Linked DNA regions of Homo sapiens: region 1 is linked to region 2. A link means that fine-mapping ties the variant in region 2 to the expression of a gene that starts in the linked region. Tissue or cell type: whole blood. Region 2 holds a variant in brackets; the other region holds the start of a gene. Each region is shown on its reference strand, or each on the opposite one. Region 1 holds the start of BLOC1S4 (biogenesis of lysosomal organelles complex 1 subunit 4). Region 2 holds the start of LOC105369958 (a long non-coding RNA gene).

The links. PIP is the estimated chance that this variant, and not a neighbour inherited with it, causes the effect.
Region 1: it holds the start of BLOC1S4, and the variant in region 2 is fine-mapped to the expression of BLOC1S4 in whole blood (TOPMed, PIP 0.99).

The regions. Positions count from the first base shown.
Region 1 is chr4:6,711,934-6,719,933 of GRCh38, forward strand. It overlaps BLOC1S4 (biogenesis of lysosomal organelles complex 1 subunit 4), which reads left to right and starts at 4,241. Exons shown (of 1, transcript NM_018366.3): 1 at 4,241-5,731. The coding sequence starts at 4,277. The coding sequence ends at 4,930. LOC105378240 (a long non-coding RNA gene) reads left to right here. Exons shown (of 3, transcript XR_001741568.3): 2 at 1,878-1,934; 3 at 2,091-2,212. RefSeq lists enhancers at 3,961-4,160, 4,643-5,282 and a silencer at 4,441-4,490.
Region 2 is chr12:105,482,827-105,491,354 of GRCh38, forward strand. LOC105369958 (a long non-coding RNA gene) reads left to right here and starts at 6,876. Exons shown (of 6, transcript XR_007063438.1): 1 at 6,876-8,528. The variant T/C (reference allele first, on the strand shown) is at 3,410.

The DNA.
Region 1 (8,000 bases), not on the chromosome of region 2:
TGAATAAATAGTAGCATATTCCTTCAGTGGTTTATTATTGCATAACCAGTTAACCCAAAATTTGGCAGCTTTAAAACATTTATTATCTGTCATAGTGCATTTAGGCTGCTCTAACAAAATGCCATAAGGTGGGCAGCTTACAAAAGAAATTTATTTCTCACAGTTCTGGGGGATGGGAAGTCCAAGATCAAAGTGCTAGTAGATTCTGTCTGGTGAGGGCTAGTATTTTGGTTCATAAACCGTTCCTTCTTGCTGTGTCCTCACAGGATGGAAGGAGCAAGGGGTCTCTCTTATGCATCCTTTTTTTTTTTTCTTTTGGAGATTGAGTTTCACTCTTGTCGCCCAGGCTGGAGTGCAGTGACACAATCTCTGCTCACTGAAACCTCTGCCTCCCGGGTTCAAGCGATTCTCCTGCCTCAGCCTCCTGAGTAGCTGGGATTACAGGTGCCTGTCATCACGCCTGGCTAATTTTTGTATTATTAGTAGAGATGGGGTTTCACTATGTTGGCCAAGCTGGTCTTGAACTCCTGACCTCAGGTGATCTACCCGCCACAGCCTCCCAAAGTGCTGGGATTACAGGCATGAGCCACCGTGCCCGGCCCTCTTATACATCTTTTGTGTATTTACTTGTAGACAAAGTCTTGCTCTTTTGCACAGGCTAAAGTGCAGTGGAATGAGCATAGCTCACTGTTTCAAACTCCTGAGCTCAAGTGATCCTCCAGCCTCCACCTCCTGAGTAGCTGGGGCTACAGGCACATGGCACCACACCCAGCTTTAAAAAAAATTTTTTTTAGAGACGGGGGTCTTGCTATGTTGCCCAGGCTGGTCTCAAACTCTTAGCCTCAAACAATTCTCCTGCCTCTTCCTCCCAAAGTGTTGGGATTACAGGCATGAGCCACTGCAGCTGGCCTTATATCCTTTATAAGGGTACTAGTCACATTCATGAGGGCTCTGACCCCATGACCAGATCACTTCCCAAAGGCCCCATCTCCTGATATCATCACTGTGTTAGGCTGTTCTCACATTGCTATAAAGGAATATCTGAGACCGGGTAATTTGTGAAGAAAAAAGGCTTAATTGGCTAAGGGTTCTGCAGGCTCTACAGGAAGCAGGGTGCTGGCATCTGCTTGGTTTGTGGGGAGGCCTCAGGAAACTTACAATCATGGCGGAAAGCAAAAGGAGAGCAGGCATGTCACATGACCAAAGCAGGAGCAAGAGGTGACAGGAGGTGCCACACACTTTAAATGACTAGATCTCACGAGAACTCACTCATCACAGGAACAGCACAAACGGGATGGCGCTAAACCATTCATGAGAAATCTGTCCCCATGACCCAGTCACCTCCCACCAGGCTCCAGCTCCAACACTGGAGATTACATTTCAACATGAGATTTGGGCAGGACATCCAAACCCTATCAATCACCTTCTGGGGTAGAATTTAAATATATGAATTTGGATGTGAGGACACAAATATTCAGACCATAGCATTATCTTATGTCATTTCAGTTTAGTATCTTACATGAGGTTGCAGTCAACCTATCAGCTGGGGCTGCAGTCATTTCTGAGTTTGAATGAGGATGGAGCATCCCCTTCCAGGATGACTTACTCATGTAGTTGTTGGAAAGAGGCTGTTTTTCCCTAGCTGTTGGTCTCAGTTCTTTGCTATATGGGCTTCTCCATGGAGCTGCTCACAACAAGGCAGCTGGTTTCCCCAGAGCAAGTGGTTTGTGAACCCCCAATATCTGAGACAGGTCTCAGTTCATTTAGAAAGTTTATTTTGCCGAGGTTGAGGATGTGTGCCCGTGACACAGCCTCAGGAGGTCCTGATGACATGTGTCCAAGGTGGTCAGAGCACAGCTTGGTTTTATACATTTTAGGGAGACATGAGACATCGATCAACATATCTAAGATGAACGATGGATTGGTCCGGAAAGGTGAGACAACTCAAAGCAAAGGCAGGACAACTTGAAGCGGGGAGGGGGCTTCCAGGTCTTGGGTAGATGAGAGAAAAATGGTTGCATTCTATTGAGTTTCTTTTTTTCTTTCTTTCTTTTAAAATTTTATTTATTTATTTATTTATTTATTTTGAGATGGAGTCTCACCCTGTCGCCCAGGCTGGAGAGCAGTGGCGTGATCTCGGCTCACTGCAACCTGCGCCTCCCAGGTCCAAGCAATTCTTCTGCCTCAGTCTCCCAAGTAGCTGGGATTACAGGTGTGTACGACCACAACCGGCTAATTTTTGTATTTTTAAAAGAGGGTTTCACCATGTTGGCCAGGCTGGTCTTGTACTCGTGATCTCAAATGATCCACCCACCTCAGCCTCCCAAAGTGCTGGGATTACAGGCGTAAGCCACCGCGCCCAGACATTTTGAGTCTCTGATTAGCCTCTCCAAAGGTGGCAATCAGATACGCATTTATCTCAGTGAGCGGAGAAGTGACTGTGAATAGAATGTGAGGCAGGTTTGCCCTAAGCAGTTTCCAACTTGACTTTTCTTTTAGCTTAGTAATTGTAGGACCCCAAGATTTATCTTCCTTTCGCAGGTTGGAAGGAAAGAGATGCCACACTACCTTTCATGAACTAATGTCCAAATCATACATCATCACTTCTGTGTTTTTCAGTTTATTATGAGCAAATGAAGTCACTAAGTCCAGTACATACTCGACAAGAGGGAATACACAAGAGTGAGAATACCAGGAGTAAGAAATCACTGGGAGTCATCTTGAAGGCTGGCTAGCAATCACAGTTTGCCCCCTGACTACCAATTCTTCATGCCATTTTAACGTGCTAACCACACTCCCCTCTATCCAAGGTCCCCAAAAGTTACATTTTTTTAAATCTCATGTAGTTTTAGGTATTACTATCCTATTGTCACATCAGCTTTAAGTCCAGAATTTTGTCTTCTCAATAAGATCAGATGTAGATGAGGCTTTCTGAGCTTAGTTCCTTAAATTCAGCTCCTAGAGTACAATTCTTCTTGATCTGTAGACTTTTGAAACTAAGGAGACAAGTTCTCTGCCCCCATGCCTGGAATATACAGTTGTGGGGCTGGCACAGGATAATCACTACAGACCTGTTCTGCTCCACTACGACTAGATTAGCCACTGCCACTCCTGTTCAAAAAGGGGGAAATTGGAAGTACAAACAAGTTGCCAGCCCACAGTAACTCTGCCATCCAGTCTCAAGGTCTAGGACTCCATGACTCCCAGTTCCACCATCTGGGCTCCTGGTTTCATGCCCTGAGTTATACTTCCTTTTTTGTGAAATGTGGCATGTGTTTGCCAATGAGTCTTTTTCTCAGTCTGATTCCTGCTTGTACAAGTTTGGGGAGAGGGGATCCAAAGGCCTGTTCCTTTCAGTCCAATCTGCAATGTTTGTGTCAATATAATTATCTTTAAAAAACTTTATAGGTCTCCTGTGAATCTCATCGGGGTTCACTCCGTTAAACAAAAGTGCTACCTACAAATCCCTTTGAGATAAGTCCATCTCTATCTTGGGCTTCTGCTAATACTGACGAACAAGCCTTAAGCCTTCTGGAGGCCTTGTGGTTTGACTGATGGACTCTGTGAGCCACACCATTAATCTCTTTAAGGAGCTGTTAGTCTAACTGAATGGTATTCTCAGGCACCGTCTTTGCTTTTTTTTTTGAGATTTTAAAGGATTTAACCGTCACATCTCAACTTCACCTTTGTTTTTTTCTGGCAGTACCCTGGATTTGATATTTGCTTGGAAACTATTACTATTTCTTAGTTTTACGCCATTTGCAATCAGGCGAAGCTGAGGACTTTAAAAATCATCCAAAGTCGTCAAGGTCCATCCCTTTTGTGTTTCGTCTTGCTTATCTCATTTATTTTACTATAAACAGCAAAAAGAAATGAAGGACAGGAGGGAGACGTTCATGGGTGCTGGACATGTCCTACCTGTTGGTCTGGATAGAAGATGCATGGTTGTATGGATGTGTACAAAGTCATCAATGTGCACACTTAAAATGTATGCACTGTATTGTATTCCTGCTATACCTTCGCTTAAAAAAGAAAAAAAAGGTTGAATGTGAGTTCGGGCGTGAGAAAACAGCAGCGCGCATGCGTGAGCGTGAGCGCGCATGCGTGAGCGTGAGCGCGCTGGGAGGCCGGAAACAAAGGTGGATGCGCGTGAACAGACGCCCTCGCAGGCCGCCGGAAGCAAAGGCGTGAGCGCGCGTGCGTGCGTGTGCGGGTGCGTGAGCGTGAGCGCGCGGAGGCCGGAAGCGAGCGCTGCGCAGTCGGGTGGTCGCGGGCCATGGAGGGTAGCTTTTCGGATGGCGGAGCGCTGCCGGAGGGGCTCGCGGAAGAGGCCGAGCCGCAGGGCGCCGCCTGGAGCGGGGACAGTGGCACTGTTTCCCAGAGCCACAGCAGCGCCTCGGGGCCGTGGGAGGACGAGGGCGCGGAGGACGGCGCGCCGGGCCGCGACCTGCCGCTGCTTCGCCGCGCCGCTGCGGGCTACGCCGCCTGCCTGCTGCCCGGGGCCGGGGCGCGGCCCGAGGTCGAGGCCCTGGACGCGAGCCTAGAGGACCTGCTTACCAGAGTGGACGAGTTCGTGGGCATGCTGGACATGCTTCGCGGCGACTCGTCCCACGTCGTCAGCGAGGGCGTGCCGCGCATCCACGCGAAGGCCGCCGAGATGCGGCGCATCTACAGCAGGATCGACCGGCTGGAGGCCTTCGTGAGGATGGTGGGGGGCCGCGTGGCCAGGATGGAGGAGCAGGTCACCAAGGCCGAGGCCGAGCTGGGCACCTTCCCCAGGGCGTTCAAGAAGCTCCTGCACACGATGAACGTGCCCTCGCTCTTTAGCAAGTCTGCTCCCTCGAGGCCACAGCAAGCCGGCTACGAAGCCCCCGTCCTGTTTCGGACCGAAGACTACTTCCCTTGTTGCAGTGAAAGGCCTCAGCTCTGACGGCCTGACCACTGCGGCAAGAGGACCCCAGCTGGGGTGCTTACCTCCAGTATGAAGTGAATTGCAAATCCTGCTTATGGACATATATGATGTTGGAGTGTGGGATTTTAAAGTTTACTTTCTACAAACTCTCCGTAGTATATTCATGATTCAGTGTAGAATGTATAGACTTTATGTCTTCCAAGTTTAAAAAAAGAGACAGGGTCTTGGTATGTTGCCCAGACTGTTCGGAAACTCCTGGGCTCAAGTGATCCTTCCACCTCAGCCTCCCCAGTAGCTGGGACTACGGGGTCGCCACTGCACCCAGCCTGTGTCTTCCAGCTCTAATCAGAAAGCTGCTTGTCGAGGGCATGGGGAATCAAACTGAATGAACTTTTCTCTGCACTGTGGCAAAACTGTTATTTTTATGGATTTTACTAAATGGCGTTACCTTTTCAAGATTTATATGTTTGTATAATCATAAGAAAATTGAGCCATTAAAGCCTTGTTATTCAATCCTAATAGTCAGTTTTCTAGAACCTACTTTTAGGGTAAATGGTACATTATTTAATATTATATTAAACCTCCTATAGCGTGGATTGTAGACCAAAGGAAATGGTACAATTTCTGAGAATATATGTTGATTTTTTGTGACTAATTCCAAAGTTGTATTTGAAAGTATGACCTCACAGTCTTCATTTGTCCATAGCAAACATATGTGTGTGTGTGTGTATATATATATGTGGGTTGCCAATGTTTGGTTTATAATTTAAATGTTAATAGAAATTTTGAGTTTTATTGGAAATGATTTCCTTCTGAAAAGAGCTTTACGTATTTCCTTGTGTGTGTTTGAAATAGACGTACTGCTCATGTGCTTTTTTAGTAGTGGGATAAAGAAAAGGGGCTTGAGTATACCTCCTTTAGAGAGCTAATGTGAAAAGCTGTAGCTTCTATTTCAGAGCATGGTATATTTCTTTTCTTTTTTTTTTTTTTTTTTTTTTTTGAGACGGAGTCATGCTCTGTCGCCCAGGCTGGAGTGCAGTGGCGCAATCTCGGCCCACTGCAAGCTCCGCCTCCCGCGTTCACGCCATTCTCCTGCCTCAGCCTCCTGAGTAGCTGGGACTACAGGCGCCTGCCACCATGCCCGGCTAATTTTTTTTGTATTTTGTATTTTTTTTTAGTAGAGACGGGTTTTCACTGTGTTAGCCAGGATGGTCTCGATCCCCTGACCTCGTGATCCACCTGCCTCGGCCTCCCAAAGTGCTGAGATTACAGGCGTGAGCCACCGCGCCCGTCCAGAGCATGGTATATTTCTTTCCTCTCGAAATGGATAGTTAAATTATTTGTGTGAGTGAATGGTATTAGGATTTTCCTGCGGATACAGTAGACTTTTATTGAGATTCAAATCTATTTTATAAGGTGGCCCTCCTAAATAGTAGATGCTAAAAAAGCATACAGCTTAGGTTGCTTTTGTGTCATTTGCAGTGTCATCAAAGATCTTTGAGGTTCATAGAGTAGCTGTATTTTCATTTAGCTGTGTGTTGTGAAGAATCTGATCATGTAATCTTGCACCTAGCTTTCGTGGACCTTCATTGTCACATATTTACGTTTTTTATTCAGGTGGTTCATTGACGACAAATTAAGGAACTCTGAATGTAGAAGCTGAAAGAACAAGTAACCTACATTTAATATTCAGCAACTGCTGGTACCCCTATAAGTAATTCATGTGTTTCGATGACATAGTCACTGAATATGAAAATATCCTTACATAACAAAACATTGCTAAAAGATTTTTCACTTAAAGTTAACATTCAAAAGCAGTAATTAGGGGCCGGGCGCGGTAGTTCACAAGCACTTTGAGAGGCTGAGGCAGGCGGATCACAAGGTCAGGAGATCGAGACCATCCTGGCTAACATGGTGAAACCCTGTCTACTAAAAATACAAAAAAAAAAAAAAAAAATTAGCCAGGCATGGTGGTGGGCGCCTGTGGTCCCAGCTACTCAGGAGGCTGTGGCGGGAAAATGGTGTGAACCCGGGAGTCGGAGCGGAGATGACGCCACTGCACTCCAGCCGGGGCGACAGAGCAAGACTCTGTCTGAAAAAAAAGAAAAAAGAACTAATATCCACCTATCCACCTTGGCACTCCCACAATGCATATTCCCAGTGCTCTGTCCATCCCCACTGCTACCCAACCCATCCAAGCCACTGGCATCTCTCCTGGGCCACTCAACAGCCTCTTAAGTGGTCTCCTGCTTCCCCTTCCCCGCTCCAAGCCACTCCCGCATGTAACACATCAGCCAAAGGGGTCTTTAAACAACATAAATCAGACATATTGGGCTTTGCCTAAAGCTCTCATTAGCTTCTCTTCATATTAGAATAAAGCCCAATTTCTGTTCTCTGGCTTGAGGTGGCTCCTGCCCCCTTGCTCACTCCCCTGCAGCCTTCCCTTGACCTCGAAAGATGCCCCATAGCATCTTTCATATGAGGATATGGAAAGGGGACATATGAACTGTCCCCTTCATAGCGCTTGTTACAGTTTGTGAAATGTGTTTGTGTCATTATCTGATGACTGTCTGCCTTACTCACCTGGAGTAACAAGTGGATGTTAGCTGCATCCACTTGGCTGCATGCTCAGCAAGCAGGTAGCACATCCCTGGTACACTCACATATCTGTGCAATAAGCGATTGTCAGAGTGACTGAGTGAATGAACGACTACACAAAATGTAGGCACTCCATAAGGAATGCGAGACAGAAAGGCAGACAGGAGAATTCAGTCAGACTAAGGGCTGGCTCAGAAATCAAGCACCATGGGAAGACTAGGACACAAAGAAAAACAAGATGTGATTCTTTCCCAAGAGCTGGGCAGGCCAGTGGGTGAGAAAGTCAGACGCCCAATCCAGTTGAGTCCAACCTAAGGTTCAGTCAAACACCACACAGACATTCCCGTGGGCTCCAATGGGGCTTTGTTCCTAATCGTGCCCTGGGATGTTGATACAGAACTTACAAAACTATCCTTCTAAGAAGACTCCTTTTATGTGCTGAGAAGTTATCCAGATTCAGGCACAGTGGCTCATGCCTGTATTCCCAGGG
Region 2 (8,528 bases):
AAACATTTTAGCATGTATTAGTGTATTAGATCCTGAATGCATGGATGTGAAGATAGTAGTCCTGTTACTTATCAGGTATATCAGACAGGTTTTCGTTATTTTGTAGGTGGGAAACAGACTCAGAGAGGTTGTTTGACTAACTTATGGTCACACAGCTCATGGATCTTAGAGCTGAGTTATAAATCCAGCTCTCTTCCCTGATCCCTGTTTGTGACATGCATAGTTTGGCTTTCAGAGGAGAGTGTCATTCCTCTTTAAGGGATGATCGAGAGAGCTGCCCCAGGAGAGAGGAGGGACTTCCATGTGATTGTTGCATTAGCTCAGCTCTGAATGGTTTCTTCTGTTTAATAAACCTTGTTAATTTTACTACTGCTTGTTCTTGGCTCCACCACACAGCAGTGGTTTAGGCAATATGTTCAAAAAATGTGCTAATTACAGGCTGTAATTTTCTTCCATCCTAAAATAAATACTTAGCATTTTAGTACTTGGAGAGGGAAATAGTTTAGTGGAGCTAGAAGAGTCACGAAGCTTGGGGGCTGTTGGGAGGGGCTGAAGAACATGGAAGCAGAATGTGCAAGGATAGAAAAAAATAGAAGTTTTTGGAAGGCTGTGGTGTCTGGGGTCTATTTAGTGGGAGTGGTGTTATGTATGTGGGTGTGTGCAAGTTTGGGGGATACTTGGGGGATGCTGTGCAGAGAGAGGCAGAGGGAAGGGGGTGCTTGCTACCTGCTCACCAAACTCTGTTCCTTCTCTTCCGTGGTGCAATTCTGTCATTCAAGAAGTGTGTTTTGTTTTGTTTTGTTTTGTTTTGTTTTTTGAGCTGAGCATGGTAGCTTATGCCTGTAATCCCAACACTTTGGGAGGCTGAAGTAGGAAGATTGCTTGAGCTTGGAAGTTCAAGACCAGCTTGGGAAACACCAGGCTTTCAGCAAATGCTCCTTGAGTGTGTGAAGTACTGTATTGAGCAGCATAGAATTGGACACTGTTGACCATATCATTCTTTAGTTGATGAGATCTGGGCCCTCATAAGCCCTCATGTTTGGACAGTGCCTCCTGGTTTACAAAGAGCTTCCTTGAACATGATCTCAGTTCAGCATCACAATAACCCTCTGAGATGAAAAGGGGTAGGGAAAGAACAGGAAGGAACTAACAGGAACTGTGGGAGTTCAGAATGAGGGATTATTTCTAGCTGCAGGAGGGACCCATAGAAGTCTCCTGAGAAAGTGGCATTGAGATGGGCTTTTAAAGAAAGGTGAGAGAGCAGAGAACAGTATTCCAGGTGGAGGCCACATCGTAGGCAAAGTCACAGAGATGTGAAAGCGTGGGTGTGTCTATGGGACTAGGGGAGGTGATCAATGGGGCTGGAGTATAGGCTGCCTGCAGGACAGTGTGGGAGGCCAGACTGAAAACAACCACAGGGCTCAGAGAGCAGCATCATTTCATTAGGATCATCATCTTCATTCCCCTCTTTAAAAACACACTTCCAGACCACTTGCTCTATGCCAGGCACTTGGCTAGGTATGGGAGACACAAAAGATATCATGTACAGTTCCTGCCTTGAGGGCATTTACAACCCATCAAGGAGAACTGCCACACACACACCAACCTTAAACGAAATGCGTAGAAGTTACTTGGAAAGTTTGCACTTCCATTTAACGTGTGCATGTTCAGAAGAATGGAGGCCTGCAAGAGTTCCCTTTTCACATGTACTTGGAGCTTTCCCTTGAAGGGCCCTCTAATTAAGTCTTTGGGGAGGCAGTGCAGCACAGTGGTTGCAACCACAGTCTCTGGAGTCCGAAGGCCTGGGTTGAAATTTGGGCTGCAGCACTGACGACCTACAACTCCCTGGTGGAGTCTTTAGTTCTCTATCCTTGGTGATATGGTTTGGCTGTGTCCCCACCCAAATCTCATCTTGAATTATAATTCCCATAATTCCCTTGTGTTGTGGAGCGACCCAGTGGGAGATAATTGAATCATGGGGACGATTTCTCCCATACTGTTCTCATGGTAGTGAATAAGTCTCATGAAATCTGATGGTTTTATAAGCAGAAACCCCTTTCACTTGGCTCTCTCTCTTTGCCTGCTGCCATCCACATAAGACGTGACTTGCTCCTCCTTGCCTTCTGTCATGATTGTGAGGCCTCCCCAGCCATGTGGACCTGTAAGTCCATTAAACCTGTTTTTCTTCCCAGTCTGGGGTACGTCTTTATCAGCAGTGTGAAAACAGACTAATACACTTGGTTACCTTGTCTATAAAATAACGATCCAAAGGCAACCTGGTTGATTGGGTTGTCATATCAGCTAAGACAATGCAGAAAAATAGTACCATGCATGATACCCAATTAACCCAATAGCAAATAAGTAAGCACGATGCTGCTGGCTGTGGCTTGCATACTGTAGCTGAGCCGAAGTAGAGTCTCTGAGCAAGGAGGGCACCATGGAACATGTTCTTCTGGGAGTCCCGCTCAGAAAGCAAAGCTGGGTGAGTGTGCAAGGTCGTTGTGGTGCTGCCAAGTCATTGTGGAGCCTCGCTAGCATATCTTGGCTTAAAGGAGTAGGGATTTCTTAATAAATCAGGTGTTTCTTGTAGACACTCCCCACCCCCAGCAGTGCTGGAATGTGCAGAGGATGTTTTGAATGTGTCACCACTGATAGTTACATGCCGTCCTGTTGCAGTGCGTTTCCAGGAGCTAAACCAAGGCCAGGGTCAGGGAGCCCAGCTTTGTGGCAGCGGATGATACATTCCTCTGAAATACACCAACTCCTTGAGAGCTTCCTTCAATTATACTGCCCCGCGTGAGTTTGCACACCCTCACACACAATTGGCTTTCCTCTCTTAGGAGTTTGGGATATTTCAAGGCTTGCTAATCAGCTGTGTTTATTAGATAGCCTTTGTTTTCCCCTTCTAAGACAGGAAGCTCATTAGAAACAAGCACAAACTATCAACTTTCAACCCAGAGTTGAAAATGTTCCCTGAGAATTGGGGATATTTTTCAAGGGAGTCATATTCAGAGGCACAGCCCAACTCACGGTAGCTAAGCTGACAAGTAGGCTCTAGGTAATCCACATTCCAAGGATTTTGAGGTTCCCATGAGATGAATGCTTTCCCTCCATGATTATACCTTGCAGCTAGAAATATAAGGAAAAGCTGGGGCAAACTATAATACAGCAGGTAGTGACAATGGCCCTGGAGCCAGATGAAATGGGCTCATGTTCTGGCTTAGCCATTTACTAATTATGTGACCTTGGGCAAGTCACTGACCTTCAAATTCCTCATCCTTAAATAGGGGTAGGCCGGGAGGGTGACTCACGTCTGTAATCTCAGCACTTTGGGATCCTGAGGTGGGTGGATTGCTTGAGCACAGAAGTTAGAGACCAGCCTGGGCAACATAATGAGACCCCGTCTCTA[T/C]AAAAAATTTTTTTAAAATCAGCTGGGTGTGTGATGGTGTGCACCTGTGGTCCCAGCTACTTAGGGGTCTGAGTCAGGAGGATTGCTTGAGCCTGGGAGTTTGAGACTGCTATGAACTATGATTGAGCCACTATACTTCAGCCTGGGTGACAGAGTGAGACCCTGTCTGAAAAAAAAACAAGGGTGGTACTACCCACTTCATAGGATTATTGTGAGCTTTACGTGAAGGCCTTACGTGATTGTTAGTTATTATTATTTATAGTAGCTTTCATTTATTCATTCATTCCTTTACTCAACTGATACTGATTTGGTACTTTCTATGTGCCAGGTGTTGTGTTTGGTGTAGGAACTATGTAATAAAATGAGTTCTTGTCCCTGCTCTTGAAGAGGTCACCACTCAATGAGAGAGACAACATGTACACAGGTTTTATGAAGCAGTGTGAACAATGCATGCAACAGGCTTTGGGAGCACAGTGGAGGGACACCTAGCTCTAGTTGATGGTGGTTGTGGTAGTGATAGCCCAAGTGTACCACGATGGAAGTAATAATGATGGTGATGATGAGGATGTTGGTCATGCTGGTAATGGTTTGCTTGTAAGGATGGTAGTAATGATGGGGACTATGAGATGGTGGTGATGGTTGTGGTAGTAATGATTCCAGCATGATGTCATAATGATGACAGAGACATTTAGATTGGTGATAGTGGTGGCCATGATGGTGGTGACAGTGGTGATGGTTTACCATGAGGATGGTAGTGAAGATGGCATTGCTGCTGATAGTGGTGATGGTGGCCATACAATGGTAATCAAGATGTCAGTAACAGGATTGTAGTCAAGATGGTAGTAAACAATACAGTGGTGATGGTGATGGTGAGGGTGGCAATGGTGGTATTAATGTTTTGAGAAAGGATGGTACTAGAGATGGTACAGATGATGGTGACAGTGTGATGGTGGCAGTGGTAGCAATGACTGTGATAGGATAGCAGTAATGGTGTAATGGCAGTGATCATGGTGAGAGCAGGTAGAAGTGGCAGTGATTTGCCCTGAGGATGCTAGTAAAGATGGTAGTGATGACCATGTGGAGGTGGTGGTGGTGGCATGATGTGAGAAGACAGCTGTTCTCTTCCTACCCTTCCCAAGATTATGATTAAGAAAATCCCAAACATGATATTATTTCATCTGTAAATGTAAACTATATCTTTAAATTTAAATTTTCTAACTTTGTTGCTAGTGTGTAGACATGAAAATGGTTTTTGAAAATTGACATAAGATCTAGTAACCTTGTAAATCTCTCATCATTTATACTGATTTGTCTGCAGATTCAATGGGGTCTTCTACATAGACAATCATATCATCAGCTAACAGAGTTTTGTTTCTTTCTTTTTAATACTTATGCCTTTTATTTATTTTTCCTGGAGGATTATACGATGTCTTCCAGTTTAGTGTGAAAAAGAGGTAGTGAGAATGGTATCTGTCTTTTTCCTGATTCTAATTGTAATAATTCTAACATTTTACAAATATCAAATATTAAAATAATGCTTATTACAGGTTTAATAGGTATCCTATATGAGGTTATGAAACTTTGTTCTGTTGTTATCCTGGTTTGCTAAGAGATTTTTTTGATTGTTGTTTAATTATGAATATTTGTTGAATTTTATCAAAGGCTTTTTCTGTTTGTACTGAAAAGATTATATGGTGCTTTGGGCACTTCCCATGTATGACTTCAGAGTTGCGCAGCCTTAATTTTTTTCTTATTTCAGCCACTGATGCAGTGACCAATTTTGTGTGAGCACTTATCAGTTTCACACAGGTGCACCCTGACAGCAATTAACCTTTGGGTCTCACTGCATGCCTCTTCCTGTCTCTGTTGATGCGCAGTGGGAAACAGTATGAGAACCATTTGGCACTCACCAAAATTTATTCATTGAGAAAAAGGATTTGTCATTTATCTGTATAGACAGTGCTGAAATGCATTTTACGTGGCCATTCATGCAGTCCCATGGGCTTGCGTCACTCATGCAGCAGCGGCTTGATAATTTGTCTTGGTGTTAGTTTTCTTTCCTCTCTGACTCTCCTTTCTTCTTACCGCTCACTCTTGCTCTCTGGCTTTCATGCCTCAGAAAAGTACTCACACTTTATCCTTTGTTTCTGGGGAATTCAGAATATAATTTTTTTTCTCTTTTAGTCTATTTATGTGTTGAATTACATTTATAAAGTTTCTGATGTTAAATTACCCATGCATTTCCTTGGATAGTTCAGCCTGGTCACAAAGTTATAGTTAAAAAAATTTTTTTATTATACTATTTGGTTTGGAAATTTCACATCTGTGTTCATGAGTAAGACTGATGTATAATTTTTCTTTTTTAAACCTTCTTTGTCTGTTTTTGGTGTCAGTATTATATTAGCCTCACAAAATAAGTTGTAGAATGTTCTTTCTTTTCAATTACCTGGAAAAGATATTTGAATTTGAATATTTGAATGGTTTGTTCCTTGAAAGTTTGTGAAATGTATTCTATGAAATAGTTTGGGCTGGCTATTTTTCAGAAGGATTTATATTGCTGATTAAATTCCCTCAACAGTTATAAGATTATACAGGGTTTTGATTTCTCCTTGAGTCAGTTTTGGTTATTTAGCTTTCCTAGGAATTTATATATTTTAATCTATACGTCAAATTTATTAACATTAAATTTAAATGTATTAATATTAAATATTCACTTATTTTCAGTCTGTATGATAGTTATATTCCTCTTTTATTCCTAATATTTCTTACTTATATGTTTGTTTGTTTGCTTTTGATCAGGCTCACTACTGGTTTATCAGTGTCTTTAGTCTTCTCAGAGAACAAACTTCCAGCTTTGTTGACCTTTTTCCCTATGTTTTTGTTTTATATTATGTTGGTATTATTATTCTATTCTTTTAATAACTTTTTTAGTTGGTTGCTCAGCTCATTAATTTTAAGCCTTTCTTCTTTCCTAATATAAACATTTCAGGGTATAAACCTGTTTTGAAGTATTATTTTCATTGCACCCTGTGAGTATTAATATATAGTATTATTGTTACAATTGAGTTCTATGTACTTTTGAATTTCCGTTTTGGCTTCTCTTTTCCCCATGAGTGATTTATAAGTTTATTTTTATAATTCCAAGTGTGTTTAAATTTTTTATTGATGTCTAACTTAATTGCATTGTAATTAAAAAATATCTACTATAGGATACTCATTTTTAAAAATTCATTGAGACTTTAAGTACTGCATGGCAATTTTAAAGTAAATGTTTTATGTTTTATGTGTGTTTGAGACACACATCTTCTAATTATTGGAAGTAGGATTCTAAATATGTCTTTAAATCAAGCTTGTCAATGGATTGTTAGGATTTTCTGCATTTTTTGTTTTTTCATTTGCTTGATCAATCAATCATTGAGATGATGGTTTTGCTGATTTTCTCCCCATAGTTCTATTAATTTTTGATCTATATAATTTGAGATTATTTTAGTAAATATGTGCATGTTTAGTATTGTTATATTAAAATGGTTAAACTTTGTAGCAGTCTGCACTTCTCTATCATTGTACTTACACAGTCTATTGTAATTACCTAATTATAAGTTCACATCTCCCACAGACTATAATTTCTGGGAGTTCATGCAACAAATCTGAATTGTTCAGCTAGCACAGTGCTCAATTAATAATTGTTAAATGAATGGATGCGTGAATGAATTGTCCTTTACCTTTCTGATATGGCAAATGATTAACACTGGATTATATATAATGGAATCTCTTGTTTTGTGCCTAAATATATGTAGGAGTGTCAGATTTGCAATGCATATGAAGCTAGATCTCAAACATCCATATCTTGGTGTAGAAGGCCTCTTCATTTTACAAAGAGCTCATCTGCTGAGGCATTTCTTGTTACAGAATTTTGATGGTGACTGTGTTTCCACTTGGTTGACAATCTTTCTTCCTACCCTTCTTTTTTTTTTTTTTTTTGAGATTTCCATTTGGAGAAAACAGAAAGTCAGCAGATTCTTTTTCTCCCTTGAGTTAATTCAAAGCGCTGATGAAGGAAAAGAGGGAGAGTGAATCTATAAAGGACAATGGAAAAGTCCCCTTTCCATATTTTGTCTGGAGGATCTGAGATTAGATTGGGAGTTTCTGTAGCCTTGGTATGAAAGAATACAAAGGACTTTAGCTCTAAAAGTATTTAAAGCCATTTTTGTCACCAACAGGATAGGCCAAATGAAAGCTCCTTCCTCCCTTGGTCCCAGGTGTAGATTTGGGGAAGTGGGCAGCTATTTCAAATCTATTACCAAAACGCTTTGAGTGAGCACCTCCTCTGCCCCAGGTTTTATGCTAAACACCATGGTTGCAAAGAGGCATAAGACTCTTCAAGGAACTGAAGCTCTTTGGGTGGGGGAAAGGGTAACAGGTTTTGTACAGTTATTAGCAAGTTCAGTGACCTCACAAACCTGCCCTGTGAGTGGCATCTTAGATACTCTGGGCTACAAGAGCCTGAGCAGATTCAACAACAACAATTTTTGTGTGCATGTGGCATGAATCATTACAAACAACTTTATATTCATTATATTTTTTGTTCTTCACAACACCTCCTAGGAGCTGACTTTTATAAATTTTACTTTATTATTATTTTTTTGAGATGGAGTCTTGCTCTGATGCCCAGGCTGGAGTGCAGTGGTGTGATCTCAGCTCAGTGCAACCTCCACCTCCTGGGTTCAAGTGATTCTCCTGCCTCAGCCTCCCAAGTAGCTGGGATTATAGGAACCTGCCACCATGCCCTGCTAATTTTTCTATTTTTAGTAGAGATGGAGTTTTGCCATGTTGACCAGGCTGGTCTCAAACTCCTGACCTCAAGTGACCCTCCCACCTTGGCCTCCCAAAGGATTATAGGTGTGAGCCACTGTGCCCAGCCTGTAAATTTTATTTTTAATTGACAAATAATTATAAGTACTATATATTTATGGGATATGATGTGATGTTTTGATATATGTTTATATTATGAAATGACTAAATCAAGCTAATTAACAATTTCATCACCTCACATATCTTTTTTTGGTGAAAACATCTAAAATCTACTATTTTAGTAATTTTGAAATATACAGTACATTAT